Linked DNA regions of Homo sapiens: region 2 is linked to region 1. A link means that fine-mapping ties the variant in region 1 to the plasma level of a protein whose gene starts in the linked region. Region 1 holds a variant in brackets. A gene starts in the other region. All regions are shown on their forward strands.

What was found. PIP is the posterior inclusion probability: the model's chance that the variant is causal. Protein levels are from antibody-based Olink assays in UK Biobank. Linkage for the fine-mapping came from a reference panel and not from the study's own genotypes, which makes the PIPs less certain.
Region 2: MFAP4 starts here. The variant in region 1 is fine-mapped to the plasma level of the MFAP4 protein (UK Biobank, PIP above 0.99).

What each region holds. Positions count from the first base shown.
Region 1 is chr3:52,507,071-52,513,782 of GRCh38, forward strand. STAB1 (stabilin 1) reads left to right here. Exons shown (of 69, transcript NM_015136.3): 19 at 543-605; 20 at 861-956; 21 at 1,203-1,289; 22 at 2,140-2,251; 23 at 2,800-2,986; 24 at 3,072-3,165; 25 at 3,279-3,437; 26 at 4,580-4,675; 27 at 5,271-5,366; 28 at 5,526-5,573; 29 at 5,758-5,888; 30 at 6,060-6,171; 31 at 6,647-6,712. Among named protein-coding and RNA genes, the nearest start is that of STAB1, 15 kb to the left of the region's middle. RefSeq lists an enhancer at 1-502. The variant T/C (reference allele first, on the strand shown) is at 1,833.
Region 2 is chr17:19,384,366-19,392,875 of GRCh38, forward strand. MFAP4 (microfibril associated protein 4) reads right to left here and starts at 2,825. Exons shown (of 6, transcript NM_002404.3): 1 at 2,785-2,825; 2 at 2,395-2,473; 3 at 1,945-2,099; 4 at 993-1,089; 5 at 734-916; 6 at 1-344. The coding sequence starts at 2,790. The coding sequence ends at 97. RefSeq lists enhancers at 1,113-1,658, 1,659-2,204, 2,205-2,750, 6,741-7,654.

The sequences.
Region 1 (6,712 bases):
GTCTTGCTCTGTCGCCTAGGCTGGAGTGCAGTGGCACAATCCCAACTCACTGTAGCCTCCGCATCCTGGGTTCAAGCGATTCTCCTGCCTCAGCCTCCCGAGTAGCTGGGATTACAGGTGTCCGCCAACATGCCTGGCTAATTTTTGTATTTTTAGTAGAGATGGGATTTCACCATGTTGGCCAGGCTGGTTTCAAACCTCTGACCTCAGGTGATCCGCCCACCTCGGCCTCCCAAAGTGCTGGGATTACAGGCATGAGCCACTGAGCCTGGCCTGAGATAACTCTTGCATCCTCCACCGCTCCATCCCCTTTCACTCACTCTGTGCCTGCCTCTGGCCTCTCTGCTGTTTTCCAGAGACTCTAGCTCTGCCCGGCTCGGGGCCTCTGCCCCTGCTCTCCTCTGCCTGGAATGCCAGTGCTGGGCTTCCTGTGGTTGGCTCTTCTCATCCCTTAATCCCCACTCAATGTTCCCTTCTCTGGGTTTGCCGAGTAAATAAACAATGACTAACCCCTCTCCCCATCCTGCCCCTGCCCTGCCCAGGGCTCCTGTGTGGACTGCCAAGCCCTGAACACCAGCACGTGTCCCCCCAACAGTGTGAAGCTGGTGAGCACACCTTGGCCCAGCTCTCAGGGCCTCCTGACTGCCTGTTGAGGTTTCTGCCCTGGGTCACAGGGGTGGGTGGGGGAAGCAGAGGCTGGGAGGCTAGATCACACCTGGAGGCTAAGTGCTTCGCAGCCCCACTGGACCAGGGTTAGAGTTCTGGACCCAGGGGGCAGAGGTCCCTTAACCAGGGCTGCCTAGCAAAGGGGCTGGCCCAGAACCCACACCCACTGACTGGCTTTGCATGGCCCACCCTAGGACATCTTCCCCAAGGAGTGTGTCTACATCCATGACCCAACGGGGCTCAATGTGCTAAAGAAGGGCTGTGCCAGCTACTGCAACCAAACCATCATGGTAAGCGTGGGCATGGGTGCCCACTCCCAGGTCACCTGGGCACCTGCTGTTCCTCGGGGGCCCCCAAGCTGGGGCTGAGTGGGCTCCCTCCCTCAGAGGATGCACTGCAGCCTGACGGTGGAAAAGGGGTCCCAGAGAAACCTTATCCACTCCGTCACTCTGGAGATGGGGCCAGGGAGCAGAGGCAGCCTGGGCAGGGAGGGCATGGACCCAGATGGCCTCTTGGACCTGTTCTGTCTCTTATAGGAACAAGGCTGCTGCAAAGGTTTTTTCGGGCCTGACTGCACGCAGTGTCCTGGGGGCTTCTCCAACCCCTGCTATGGCAAAGGCAATGTGAGTCCCATCCTCTCCTGGGGTGAGGTATGGGGAACACAAGGACTCCTTCACCGGTTGGCCAGTGACTGGCTGTGTGTCTGGGCCAAGCCTGCCACTCTGGCCTTGGGATTCTCATATCTATGCAGTGGAAAGTTGGATCAAATTATTTCTCATATTTTAATTAAAAATAATTAGAGAGGCCAGGTGCAATGTCTCATGCCTGTAATCCCAGCACTTTGAGACGCTGAGGCGGGCAGATCACTTGAGGTCAGGAGTTCAAGACCAGCCTGGTCAACATGGCAAAACCCTGTCTGTACTAAAAATACAAAAATTAGCCTGGTGTTATGGCACACACCTGTAATCCCAGCTACTCAGGAGGCTGAGGCAGGAAAATCACTTGAACCTGGGAGGCGGAGGTTGCAGTGAGCCAAGATTGCACCACTGCACTCCAGCCTGGGCAACAGAGTGAGATTCCATCCCAAAATAACAATAATAATAATAATAATAATAATAGATAGATAGATAGATTTTTTGGCATTTATTTCCAAAAAGGCTACTTGG[T/C]GGTTTTCTTTTGTGTTCTGTTTTTACCACTTTGTAATATCACGGTTACTTTAGCACCTGGCTATAGAAGAACACAGGAGTTATGTGTTTCTGCATCCAGCAAATGTTGCTCATAAAGCCTCCAGGGCCAGGTGCCTTTTAGGGGCTAGGTCTTTGGCGGCATCAGTGATTTTGAAGATCCCTTCCAGGATGAGCTCTCACGGGTAGCAAGAGCTCAGAGCCAGCCCATGAAAGGAGGGGGTGTTGGGAGAGGGGATGTAGAGAGTCCCTTTCCCATGACTGATCCTGCCTTCTGCTCACTCTCTAGTGCAGTGATGGGATCCAGGGCAATGGGGCCTGCCTCTGCTTCCCAGACTACAAGGGCATCGCCTGCCACATCTGCTCGAACCCAAACAAGCATGGAGAGCAATGCCAGGAAGGTGGGTGGTCCTGGCTCAGGCCACCTCCTAGGGAGAAAAAACGTCTGCCTAAAGATGGGTCTGGGGGCTCTCAAGAAGGGAAACGAAGCCCCAGGAGGAGGGACGAAGGCCAAGGGGAGTGGAGGAAGATTTGCCTAAAAATGGGTCTGGGGGCTCTCAAGAAGGGAAACGAAGCCCCAGGAGGAGGGACGAAGGCCAAGGGGAGTGGAGGAAGATTTGAGAACAGAAAGGAGATGCTGTCTGCTTCACCCAGGCCAGGAAGGGAACTGTGGCTTAAAGTATGCGGGACTTAGGTCAGACACACTGAAGAACTTCCTGATGGTGGTGTTGGGATCAGGGCAACTAGAATGGGATAATTGAAAGCTCAGAATGCCCCCCTCACATTTCATCTGCCTGCCCATTGAGTCTGAGATAACCTCTGATTTTTCCACCCTGAAGTCAAATCTGTACTGGCTGCCCCACTCCCTATATCCCCCAAACCCATCCTGGCTCCCAGCCAGCCCTGCCTCCTGCTTCTCAGTTTCCTTGCTCCCATCTACTCCATACAGACTGCGGCTGTGTCCATGGTCTCTGCGACAACCGCCCAGGCAGTGGGGGGGTGTGCCAGCAGGGCACGTGTGCCCCTGGCTTCAGTGGCCGGTTCTGCAACGAGTCCATGGGGGACTGTGGGCCCACAGGGCTGGCCCAGCACTGCCACCTGCATGCCCGCTGTGTTAGCCAGGAGGGTGTTGCCAGGTGAGGACCCACACCTTCTGTCTGCCCCACCCGTGACCTTTCATACCTGAGGCTCACTGGAGCCCCCTCCTTCACCCACCCCCAGATGTCGCTGTCTTGATGGCTTTGAGGGTGATGGCTTCTCCTGCACACCTAGCAACCCCTGCTCCCACCCGGACCGTGGAGGCTGCTCAGAGAATGTCAGTCCCCTTGCTCCTTCCCTGAAGTTCTGACCCAGAGGCAGGAGGTGGGATGCCCTGGCCCTCTGCCTACGTTCTTGTGTCCCTCAGTTATTTATCCATGGCTCTCACAGGCTGAGTGTGTCCCTGGGTCCCTGGGCACCCACCACTGCACATGCCACAAAGGCTGGAGTGGGGATGGCCGCGTCTGTGTGGCTATTGACGAGTGTGAGCTGGACATGAGAGGTGGCTGCCACACCGATGCCCTCTGCAGCTATGTGGGCCCCGGGCAGGTGAGGTGCAGCAGAGAAGGGGTGGGGGCCTTGGTTCTGGGGGACTCTCTCCCTGCCCCATCTGACTCCTGGAATGCAGAGTCAGGTGCTCAGGGTCTGGAGCCTCAGGTGCAGATGAGAACCCAGTGCTGACATGCTGAGTAGTAGCATCTGGGATTCGCTCCTTCATCCATTGGCTCATTGCTTTCCCAGGTGTTTTCAGGCACCTATTCCATGCTAGTCCGTGTTCTAGATGTAGGGAATGTGATACTGAGCAAAGCAGGAAAAGCCCCTGCCCGTGGGAGTGACCTCCCCAAAACTTTAGCCTCATGGAAATCCAGCCCCGGAGCTTTGCAGTGTCTGAATCTAGTCACGGGAGCTCGGAACCTGGAGCCTTCCATGTGGAGCATTTCAGGACTGGTGAACCAGTGTTTGGACAGGCATTGAAGACTGTCTAACGCGCCAAGTGGGAGGCCAGGCCTGGCTGGTCAGGGTCAGCCTCTGCATGGCCAGGCCTGTGGGGCTCCCTGTCCTCCCAACTCCAAGGTGGCCTCTGGGCACCAGCACGTGGGGCCTTAGCAGTAAGAACTGACAGGTGTAAGAGCTGGAGCTCCAAACCCCATTAGGGCCTTAATTCAGAACAGAGGTGTTGAATGAGCCAGTGAGATGCTCCCAACGTGCAAACAAGGGCACCTGAGAGCTGAGGGGTCTCGCTGGTCACTCACCTGCAGTGTAGACAAGCCCAGGGACACTGGCATTTGGTTGGGGGATTAGAGCAGCTGAGTAGGGTGGCAGGGGTGGAGGTGGGATCTAAGCCACTATCCTGGGGCTGGCCTTGGCAGGTACCTACACACTTGCCACAAGCTGTTGGCCTCAATGGCCCTGGCAGGGCCCCAGGCTCCAAGTGCAGGAGCACCAAGTCTCCACGGATGCTTCTCTGCAAATGCTCTCACCTCCGTGGACTCATCCTGAGAGCCAGTCTCCCCTTAGGGCCTCTGTCTCCCCATCTGGAGCACAGATCTCTGAGAGGAGGGCTGGGAGAAGTTCCTCTGGGGTCTGGGCAGACCTCCCTGGGGGCAGTGACCAGAGAGAGCCAAGTAATGGAGGAAGAAAGGGTTGGATGCTCATCATGAGACAAGGCCGTCTGTTCCTAACCTTTCCAGAGCCGATGCACCTGCAAGCTGGGCTTTGCCGGGGATGGCTACCAGTGCAGCCCCATCGACCCCTGCCGGGCAGGCAATGGCGGCTGCCACGGCCTGGTAAGGGGGTGCAAGGCTCAGAGCCCTGGGGAAGCTTTCTGGGGTGAGCCTGGGCTGCAGCTCTCTCCCTCCCTCCCCATCTCTGGGTGTCTCTCTGTACCCCCTCAGGATTAAGATCTTTCTAAACTTCAAATCCAACCATGTCACTCCTCTCCCCCTTCACCCGCCCCTGCCCAGCCTCGTCTCTCTGTTCCACTCCTGCCCCACTTCCACTGTCCTTGGCTACGCTGAGCTCCTCACCATCCCCTGCCCTTGCTCCACTGTACCACACTCCTGCTTCTGCAAGCTGCACCTGGGCCTGGCTAGCTCCTCCTGCTCTCAGCTCTGGCTCCTGGGGATACGGGCCTCCTGGGTCCTCCCACAGCCCTGAGCTCCCTCGCATCCACCTGGCATGGGTAATGCTTGTGTCAAATGCCCAGTGTCCTGGAGAGCAGGGCTAGGCACACCGAAGGAGTGCCACCAACACAGACTGGGTGGCTGCAGAGCAAGGGGCAGGGGCTGGGGCTGGGTGGCTGGACAGGCAGAAAGATGGGGGAGGGAGGGGCCCAGCTGCCATCTGGTTCTGAATGGAGGCCCTTTCTCACTCCCACCCCAGGCCACCTGCCGGGCAGTGGGGGGAGGTCAGCGGGTCTGCACGTGCCCCCCTGGCTTTGGGGGTGATGGCTTCAGCTGTTATGGAGACATCTTCCGGGTAAGGGGTGCTCAGACTCGTTTTCTGTCTTCCCCGTGCTTGGGAAGGAGCCCTCTCCAGCACCTCAGGTGGGAAAGGGGCACTGCTCAGGATCCATGGTGGGGAAGGGGCTTGAATTTGCCCCTGGTCCTGTGACCTCAGACTTTTCCCTTCCCTTAGGAGCTGGAGGCAAATGCCCACTTCTCCATCTTCTACCAATGGCTTAAGGTAGGACAGGGCAGAATGCTGGGGTTGAGGGCTCAAATCCAGGAGGCCTGCCTGGATGGAGGGGTGCCATATAACATCTCCAAGCGTGGGAGGTTGGGGGCAGGGCTGGAGCCTAGAGCAGGGGATCTGAAGATGATGGCTGCCTTCCTCGCTCCTCCCGCCCCTGCTCCCTGTGTGCGTGCAGAGTGCCGGCATCACGCTTCCTGCCGACCGCCGAGTCACAGCCCTGGTGCCCTCCGAGGCTGCAGTCCGTCAGCTGAGCCCCGAGGACCGAGCTTTCTGGCTGCAGCCAAGGACGCTGCCGAACCTGGTCAGGTGGGGCCGCCATTGCCAGGCTGTGGGAGGGGCTTCCTTGAGGGACCCAGTCCCTCCCCAGCGAGTCCTCAGCCTGGCAGGCACTCACCCCTTGGGGTGGGCCCAGCCCCAAAGGTCTCTGTAAGTTACACTAACCTGATTCCATGACCCCCCTAAACTGTGCCCTGTCAGGGCCCATTTTCTCCAGGGTGCCCTCTTCGAGGAGGAGCTGGCCCGGCTGGGTGGGCAGGAAGTGGCCACCCTGAACCCCACCACACGCTGGGAGATTCGCAACATTAGTGGGGTATGTGGTGAACTCTGGGCAGAAAAGGGGACCAGGTAGGGCATGGGAGGGAGCCTGAGTGGCTGCAGGCTCTCCCACATCAGGGGCCCCATGGGATGAGATTGGGGTCCCCTCGCCCTGCCCAGAGCCGGGCTCAAAGGATGTGCTCAGGACGCATTGCTGATGGACACTGAGTCGCTGGGCCAGGAGTGACTGCCTGCAGGGGCTCTCTGTCCATCTCAGTCTGCACATGCACACCCGCCCCTGTCACCACGGGCCCTGGGGAGGGTCTGTGTGCCCAGCTGGTGGGTCCTGAGTCTGACTCAGGATCAGAGTCAGCTCCTGGGAGGAGCTTCTGTGCAGAACCCAGCTTGTGGGCCAGCCTGCGGACCACCTGTGGGTGCCTGTGTGCCTGGCAGTCTCTCTGTTGGGGCTGCCCCACCTTTAAGGGTCTATCTGTGCCCACCTGTGGCTAAGCTCTGCTGCTGCCTTCCAGAGGGTCTGGGTGCAGAATGCCAGCGTGGATGTGGCTGACCTCCTTGCCACCAACGGTGTCCTACAC
Region 2 (8,510 bases), not on the chromosome of region 1:
GGAATCAGCAGAAGCATGCATCAGGGGCAGCAGAGGGAGCACTCATGGAGACCATGGGTGTCCAGGGGAGGAAAGGTGCCTGAGGGGGCCAGCCCTTCAGGCCCGGCGGATTTTCATCTCAGTGCGTTTGAGGGAGTAGTAGAAGCCCTTCCACTGGGCCCAGTTGATGCCATTGGCATAAGAGAGGTGGGAGCCACCTAGGTAGAAGCCATTGAGGTTGGCAAAGTGGCAGCTGCGGAACCAGAAGGCTCCTGAGGAGAGAGCTGCGCAGTTCTGCACAAAGAGGTCCTGGTCCCGGTCGAAGGTAGAGAACTTCTGGCCACTGTGGTAGGACAGGGAGTCACCTGGCAGAGGAGAGAAGGGTTGGGGCTGCTGAGGCAGGGAACTGAGCCCCGAGCTGGCCGGGAGAGGGTGACAATGACGACTGTGAGAGATATCACGTGGCAGCCTGGCGGGATGGGGGCACCCTCCCTGAGCCAGATGTTGGGTTGATGTGCTTCTGCAATGAAGAGAAACAGCTGCTCCACCACAGAGTTGCCTGGAGCAGGGCCAGGATGGCTGCTCCCCAGGGCTGAGGCCCAAGCTGGTTTGAGCTTGTTTGGAGCCAGCTGTGGCCCTTCCAGATCCAGAAGGGTTGAAGGAGGGGCCTGAAGGAGGTTGGGGCTGACTGGGCAGGGCCAGCCCTGCCTTCTTTCCCCTCACAGCCCCTCCCAAAGCTAACAGCGGGTTATACCTGCCCCGCCATCCTCAAAGCCTGCCACAAAGAGGGTGTAGCCATCCTCCTCTGCGCTGACCGCGTTCGGGGAGATGGAGAAGTCAGCGTACTTGGCATAGGCCGTGTTGTTCTCAAAGTCCTCCAAGTCCACTCGCAGCTCATACTTCTGCTTCAGTGTCAGGAGGTGCATGTTCTGCAGCCCTGGGGAGGAGGGGCAGCTGGTCAACAAGGACCTGGCCCTGGGGCAGCCCCTCAGCCCACCTGGTCCCTGCCTTACCCAGCCAGTACTCTCCATCAGCACGGCCGAAGCCCAGCTTGTAGTCATTCCAGCCGCGGAAGAAACTTACTGAGCCATTGAATCTCTTCTGGAAAACCTGGAGCAGAGAAGATGAGACTGGATCATCAAGGGTCCAATGGGCAAGGTTCTGGTCCTGCCCTGCCCACCTCAAGCATGGACCCTGTGATGCTGTGGCCAGTTTGTTAAAGGACTGGGTTGGGGGTGGGGAGGGTGGTGGGAGTGGGGTTGCTAAAACAACGTCCACATTGGCACCAGGCCCCCTGTGGAGCAGTTGCCAGCACCCACCTGGGCTCTTCATACCCAGTTTCGTATAGAGGCAGGAAAGAGGCTAAGAGGGAGGCGTTCTAGAGTTCGAGTGCCTAGCTGTGGGATCTGGGCAAGTTACTTCACCTCTCTGGGCTTTAGTTCCTCACTACTTCCCAGGATTATTGTGAGGCTTATGTGCATTAACCTACCTCAGCTGGGCGCGGTGGCTCACGCCTGTTATCTCAGCACTTTGGGAGGCTGAGGCGGGCGGATCACCTGAGGTCAGGAGTTCAAGGCCAGCTTGGCCAACATGGTGAAACCTCATCTCTACTAAAAATAAAAAAATTAGCTGGGCATGGTGGCACATGCCTGTAATCCCAGCTACTCGGGAGCCTGAGGCAGGAGAATCTTTTGAACCTGGGAGGTGGAGTTTCCAGCAGTGAGCTGAGATGGAGCCACTGCACTCAAGCCTGGATGACAGAGTGAGGCTCCGCCTCAAAACAAACAAACAAACACCTACCTCAGGCACTTAGAATTAAGCGTTGGCAGCTGCTCAGAAGCTGTGCTGTGGGTATCATTATCCCCATTTTAAAGATGAAGAAACTGAGGTTCGCATATGTGAAGCCCAGGGTCACAGGGCTGGGATTAGAACCAGCTCTGGCCTCTGTTCCCTCCTCCCACTCACCGTCCACTTCCCGCCCTCGGTGGTCATGTCACAGAAGACGGGCACAGGCACACTGGGGCCCGAGGGGTAGATGAGGTACACGCCGTCTGACTGGTAGCCCTGGGCATAGATGTCGTCACAGTCCAGGGGTTGCTGAAGGCAAAACCTCTCCAGAGCTGGGGGTAGGGACATGGGGACAGTGAGGAGAGTGGGACTATGGCATCACTGACACCTCAGCACCCCAAGGTTTGCCTCAGTCCCTGGGGCTGGGGGACTTTGACACAAGGAGTCATGGAAGATTTCTTCAAGGGAGATGAGCAATGCTTATGTCATCCATCTGCCCCATTTTGTAAAGGAGGAACCTGAGTCCTGCAGAGCTGGGGCTCGGCCCTGACAGTCTGTTCTGACAGTCCAGCCTCTTCTTGCACAACCTGTGGGCCAGGCCGCGTCTGTGAGTGTGGGGCTGCTTACCATCTCCTCGGATCCCGGAGACCTGGGGGGCACACGGGGGCGTGGAGAGAAGCAGCAGCAGCGGCAGGGCCAGGAGTGCCTGGCGATGGGCAGACAGGGTCAGCACAGCCCCTTCCCAGCTCCAGAGATCCCCTGTTCTCTTTGCATTTGCCCCCACCATGCATGCACATACTGCCCTTGCCTGAATCCCTCTCCTGCTATTTGGCCCCTCTTCCCTGCCCCCCCACCCCGCCCGCCAAGTAACCCCACTCTCTGGGACGCTGTGTACCCTCATAGCTTACGAGTTTCAAGAGAACTCCTTGTGCCTTCATAGTGCCCTCTGTGGCCAGGGGCCTCTGGAGTGGGCTCAGTTCCCCCATGCTATGAGTCCCCCGACCCTGGGCCCCGTACCTTCATGCTGTCAGTTCTGCTCAGAGTGGCTGGGTGTCTGCGGCCCCAGACTGCAACCGCCCAGAGTTATGCGCTGGGCCCCCGCCAGCCGCCCCAGCCCCGCCCCCCTTCCCGTAGCTGCAGAACCCCCCTCTCCCCACCCCAGACAACCAGCATCAGTTTACACTATCAGGGGGCTGGGAGGTGGGGCTGGAGCCAGGGGACCACCTGTGTCTCATTAGTCCTGTCGGGCAAAGTACTGCAGACGTTAACTCCCTGCTGGCTCCAACTGTTCCCTGGATCCCACTCCATCCGCTATCCGCCATCTGCCACCCACCCTGCTAGACCTGTGGGCCCCCTGGCGCCCCCAGGCAGCCCCAGCCCGCCGCAGCCTGCCCCCTACTTCCTGATGGGCCCCCCTGCAGATGTCTGTTTATTCTTTCCCCTCCTTCCCTGGCCTGTGTTTCATCAGCCATTGAGGGGGAGGGCTGAGGGAGAGTGGGGGTGTCATATGCCTGGCTTCTGGGGACGGGAGGCCTGCTCTGGGGGAGCAGAAGGCTGAGGGGACAGTTTCAGAGCTCCTGATGTGGGAGCCTGGCTGGGGCTGGTGGGGGGACAGAGGCAGCAGTTTCTTGGCAGGCCTGGGACATTTCTGAGCCATGAGCACAAGGCTGCTGGCGTCCAACTGCTCTGTCTGCCCCAGCTCAGGCCAGGGCCCCTCTCCAGTCCCCCTCCCCAGCCCCCCTCACTCTGGCCACCTCAGGCCCACTCTTTTCCCCTCCCACAGTTCCCTGGCCCATCTGGCTCACATGCAATAGGTATGGGACCTCTTTTGTTTCTCCTCACTCCACCCCTCCTTTCTTCTTCCAAACCCTTCACTTTGGCTCCCACACCTCCCAGATTCATCTGAATCTCCCTACTTCTGGGCTCTCTCCTCCTATCCTTGGCACACTACCAGGAGAGTTGTTCTAGATGGCCTCTCAGATTATGTCACCCTGCTTAAAGCCTCATGGCTCCCTATTGCCTCAGGGCTGAGGCTAGGTTTCTCACCTTGGACATGAAAGGAATTTCAAGTCTGTCTCTGGCCTACCTTGAGGACCTTGTCCCTTATTGCTGTGACTCATAAACTACAGTGCAGCCACTCCAGACTTTTCACCATGGAGGTCCCCACTCTTTTGTGCTGCTCCTTGTGGTGCCCGCTCATCTGCCTCCTTTTGTTGGCCATAAGGGCCAGTGAGCAGGGTGTGTGTCTCATTTCTGCATGCTCAGTGCCCATCACAGAGCCTGGCACAGAGTAGGCTTGATATGTACATGCACAGTCACTTACGTATTTATATCTATATATAGATAAGATACTAGAGTCAGGGCCTTGCCCTGTTGCCCAAGTGCAATCATAGCTCACTGCAGCCTCAAGCTCCTGGGCTCAAGTGATCCTCCCACCTCAGCCTCCTAAGGAGCTAGGACTACAGGTGTGCCACCACACCCAGCTAATTTTTTAATTTTTTTGTAGAGATGGGGGGGGTCTCCCTATGTTGCCCAGGCTGGTCTTGAACTGGCCTCAAATGTTCTTCCCACCTTAGTCTCCCAAGAAGCTGGGACTACAGGGCCAGCACACCTGGCTCACAGATATCTTTTGAGCGCTGTGTGCTATAGGCTATGCTGGCTGCTGAGGATACAGTATCTGCCCCACAAGGAGTGGCAAGCACAGGTTTTGGACAGTGAATTGCAAATGTAAGGTGTATTACAAAAGGACATTTGTGTTGAATGGATGAACAGATGAAATATTCAAAGGCAAAGTGATGAGGCAGCTCTGGCTTAGGTCCCATCTCTCCACTCCTGAGTCAATAGATAAGCCCCTTGGCAAAGCCCCAGTTGGCCTCCCTGACTTGGTTCTGTGATTGCCTCTATTCATAGTTGTGTCTTGTGTCAGGCTACCTCAGTTCAAATCTAGATTCTGTTGCCTGTTAGCTGGGTGACCTTGCAAAAATTACCTAGTCTCTCTGTGCCTTGGTTTCCTCCTCTGTAAAATGAGGATAGTCATAGTATCTACTTCATAGGGGTGTGGTAAGGATTAAGTAATACATATCAAGTTCCTAAAACAGTGCCTACAAATGGCAGCTATTTAGTAAATATTAGCTATCGTCATCGTCATCATAAACATCATGATTCTCATATGAATGGGTTGTCTTCAACACAGCTTGTATGCTTGCCTGTGGAAGAGACAGTTGGCTGGCTCTCAATACTCGTTCTTCCCTTAGTCCTCAGTAGTAAGATCCTGATTTTTATCTGGGCTCATTGTCCAGCCTCCCTTGTAGCTAGGTGAGGTCACACATCTGAATTTTGGCCAACAAGATGCCAACAGGTATGTTGTAAAGGTAGGTGGCTTGTCCCTCTTCATCCTGCCCTCTGTCCTGCTGGATGTGATGGCTGGAGCTCTAGCTGCCACCTTGGACAGTGGGGATGAGGAAGATGAGGCCTCATCAGGGAATGGCAGAGGAGGAACTGGCAAAGCCTCTCACGACTTTGTGGAGTCGGTACAAAAACAGCCCTGGACTGCCCTCCTCTAGGCCTTTTTTATGCAGGAGAGAAAGAAACTTCTATGTATTTTAAGTGTCTGTTGTTTTTTTTTCTGTTACACACAGCTGAATCTAATCCTGATCTCTTCTTTCAGCAAATGCCAGCTAATTTTAACACAAGTCTATAAAAGGGAAAATAATGAAAAAAAATCAGTTATCAAAACAAATACTAAAATGGTCCAAAGTCAAGTATTGAAGACTTTTGGAGAATACCACTAATGAGCAAACATAGAAACTCCTTCTCCCCCTAGAAAAGAGAGAATTAAGATACGAGGTATCAATTACATTTTGCCAATTAGTTTTTACTTAAAAAATGCAATAATGTGTGTGGGTGCAGCAAAGCAGGCACTGTGTTCACTGGATGTGGCTGGAAATTAGTTTAACTTTTGTGGTAAAGAAATTTGGTAATAACATGCCCAGAGTCGGTAATCCTTCTAAGGTGTTGTCTGGAGGAAATACTCTGACATGTTGAAGAGGCTACAGATACAGCTGGGGGACATTACTTGTTGGCTGCCCAGCATGGGAAACCTCTTCCCACATTTGGGGTGTTCCTCTCCTAACTAGAATGCTGGGTGTTCACATTTCCAGGGTTCCTTGCAGTTTGATTGAAGGCACATGGCCTTGGTTTAGCTGATAAAATGCACGGTCCTGGGCTTCATTTTGGGAGAAAGTGATTTGAGAAGCAGAAGCAGGAAGAATCCATTCCTGGGGCGATGGTGACCCCAGTGCTGTCTGGGTCCTAGTTTCTCTGGGTGGTTGGTGGTGGCTTGGCAAGCACAGTGCTGAGTGACACTGGCTTAGGCTTAGGCTGCAAAGCCCTGAGCTTGGTTCTCAGCCCTCCCAGTGATCAGTTTGCTCTGCCTGCTGATGTTTTTGAAAGAGACCCCCAACTCACATGCATAAAGATGTTTGTGTCTAGATTCTGTCATTGCCAACAACAGACACTAACTCTGACTTTGTTGGGAGGCTTTGCTGGGAGTCTAGACTAGGGGTGGGTGGGAGCTGAGGCTGCCCTGGGCTCTGGAAAGCAGGCCCTCAGTGGGGGTCCTGTGGTGGGACAATGTTGGGTTGATGCTGCTCAATGCACATGGCTATGGCTTTGTCTGTCTGCCAGATTCCAGGAGTGAGGAGGGTCCATCCCATTGGCCTTGCTTGGGTAATTTTATGCATCCCTTGGCAAGGGGAGTGCAGTTGGACACCTTTCATTTGCCTCCCCACCTTTCTCCCTACTGCCCTGGGCCCCGGAAGGCCAGCCTCACCCTCTGGTTTCTGATTGGGTCCAGCCAATGAGGAGCTTATCAGGATTCAGCGGGAAGGAGAATGAAGTAGGAATATTCATTCCCCTCCTTGTAGAGTCCCCACACACTGGTTTTGTTTCTCAGCCAACAGTCTCAAGTCCTGCCAGGTAGCCATCTCCATACAGCCTCCTGACTCACTGTGGGTGACTCCTTCCTCCTCTGCCCGCTTCAGGTCTAGGGGTGTTGACAGCCCTGGTGTTACCAGCCCAGAGATAGGGGGCCATCTCCTGCTTACACCTCAGCAAATAGTCCTTTTATTAAATGCTACTCAAATTGTCCTAACCTGAGTGTTACTTGATGGAAACTGGACTGATTCAGGGAGAGAGGCATCCCTGACTATAATACAGAAAACGAGTGTGAGACTAGGAGGAGAAGTGGCTGCAAGTGTACAAAAAAGTCTCCACTAAATACCCTCTGTAATAGTCATTGTAATGTATGCTGTAATATTGTCAAACCCAGATGGCTCAGTAAAAACAGATGACCCCCTGTGCTTCCTCGATGTCATTTTGGTAAGACATTTGCTCAAGTTGGTATGGCTTCCGCCCCTGGGTTAGGCCTGTGCTGGTTGTTCTCTGCGTTCCCTGATCCACCCACATCCTCCTCTGTGCCTGGTGTGGGGGCTGCCCTGTAGGGAGGACATCGCTGGGTTTCCATGGCCCCTGGCTTCCAGCTGGGTTTGACTAATGGGAGACACCAGCAGGAGATGGGAGAAGAGAGAGGTTGAAGTATTTCTCCCAGCTCCTGTCCTGATGAGCACTGCAGTTTTGGCCGTAGCTGTGCCCGCTGTCCCTCCCGCCCCTCCCCCCCACCTCCTGATGACATCTCCTGCCATAACCTCCCTCACTGTCTCCAGTAACCCTGTTTCCTCCCCTTGCCCCTTAGGCTGGGATGATGAGGGCTGTCATCCTTGCTAGCCCCAGGATGCCTCAATGCCCCATGTTGGTTTTCTTAATGTTCACACCCAAGTAAATAGTCCCTTCATTAAATTCTCTGAATTAAAAAAAAAAAACCCAAACAGCTGAGTTCACCCTTTGTTTCCTGAGAGGACCCTGACTGACTCAAGGTCTTACTTTGGTTTCCTCTAAAAGCACAGCAGCCTGTGGAGTGGAGCATTTTCTGTTGTTTTGGACAACAGCTAAGGACAAGACCCCTATTCTCTCTGCAGGTGCAGACACCTCCCTGTGTGTCTTGCTGGCAGGCAGCTAGACTGCTCCTTTATCCACCCTCCTGTATCCGGAGCTAGAGAAGCCTGAGGAGAGTTTTTGAAGGAAACTCATCAAAGCAGAGAGCACCTAGGGAGAAGAGATGGTGGGTCCCCCCAACCCAGGCCAAGCAAAGGGGCTCCAAGAAAGAGGAGCTGTGTGCCAGAAGGACAGACTTGGGTTGACAGGCTGAGCTGCCCAAACCCAAGGGCCCTTTCCCAGAGGCCGCTGCTGCAGCAAAGTGAGAACGACTGTTTGGAAGACGGGTGAAGCCTAGGGCTACCCGAGTTGGAGAGGAGAGGGGGCAGGGGCTCGCACAGTCATCATTTGGCAGGACACAGATGTGGTGTTCCGAGTGGGTGCTGTGGAATATGAGGTCAGATTGGAATCAGGCCCATCCTCGTAACCTCATTTTACCTTAACTACCTCTTTAAAGGCTGTATCTCCAAATATAGTTGCATTCCAAGGTAGTGCATGGTACAGCTTCAGTGTGAATGTTGGGGTACACGATTCATCCCATAACAAGCATCTTAGAAGCACCAGGCACTCTTTAACCCTTTATAGGCAACCGTGCACAAGACAGAATCTCCAGCCCTCCTGGAGCTACAGAAGAGAAAGAAAAGTAAAGTGAAATGATAAGTACTATGAAAAATGAAGCAGGAAGGTAGCAG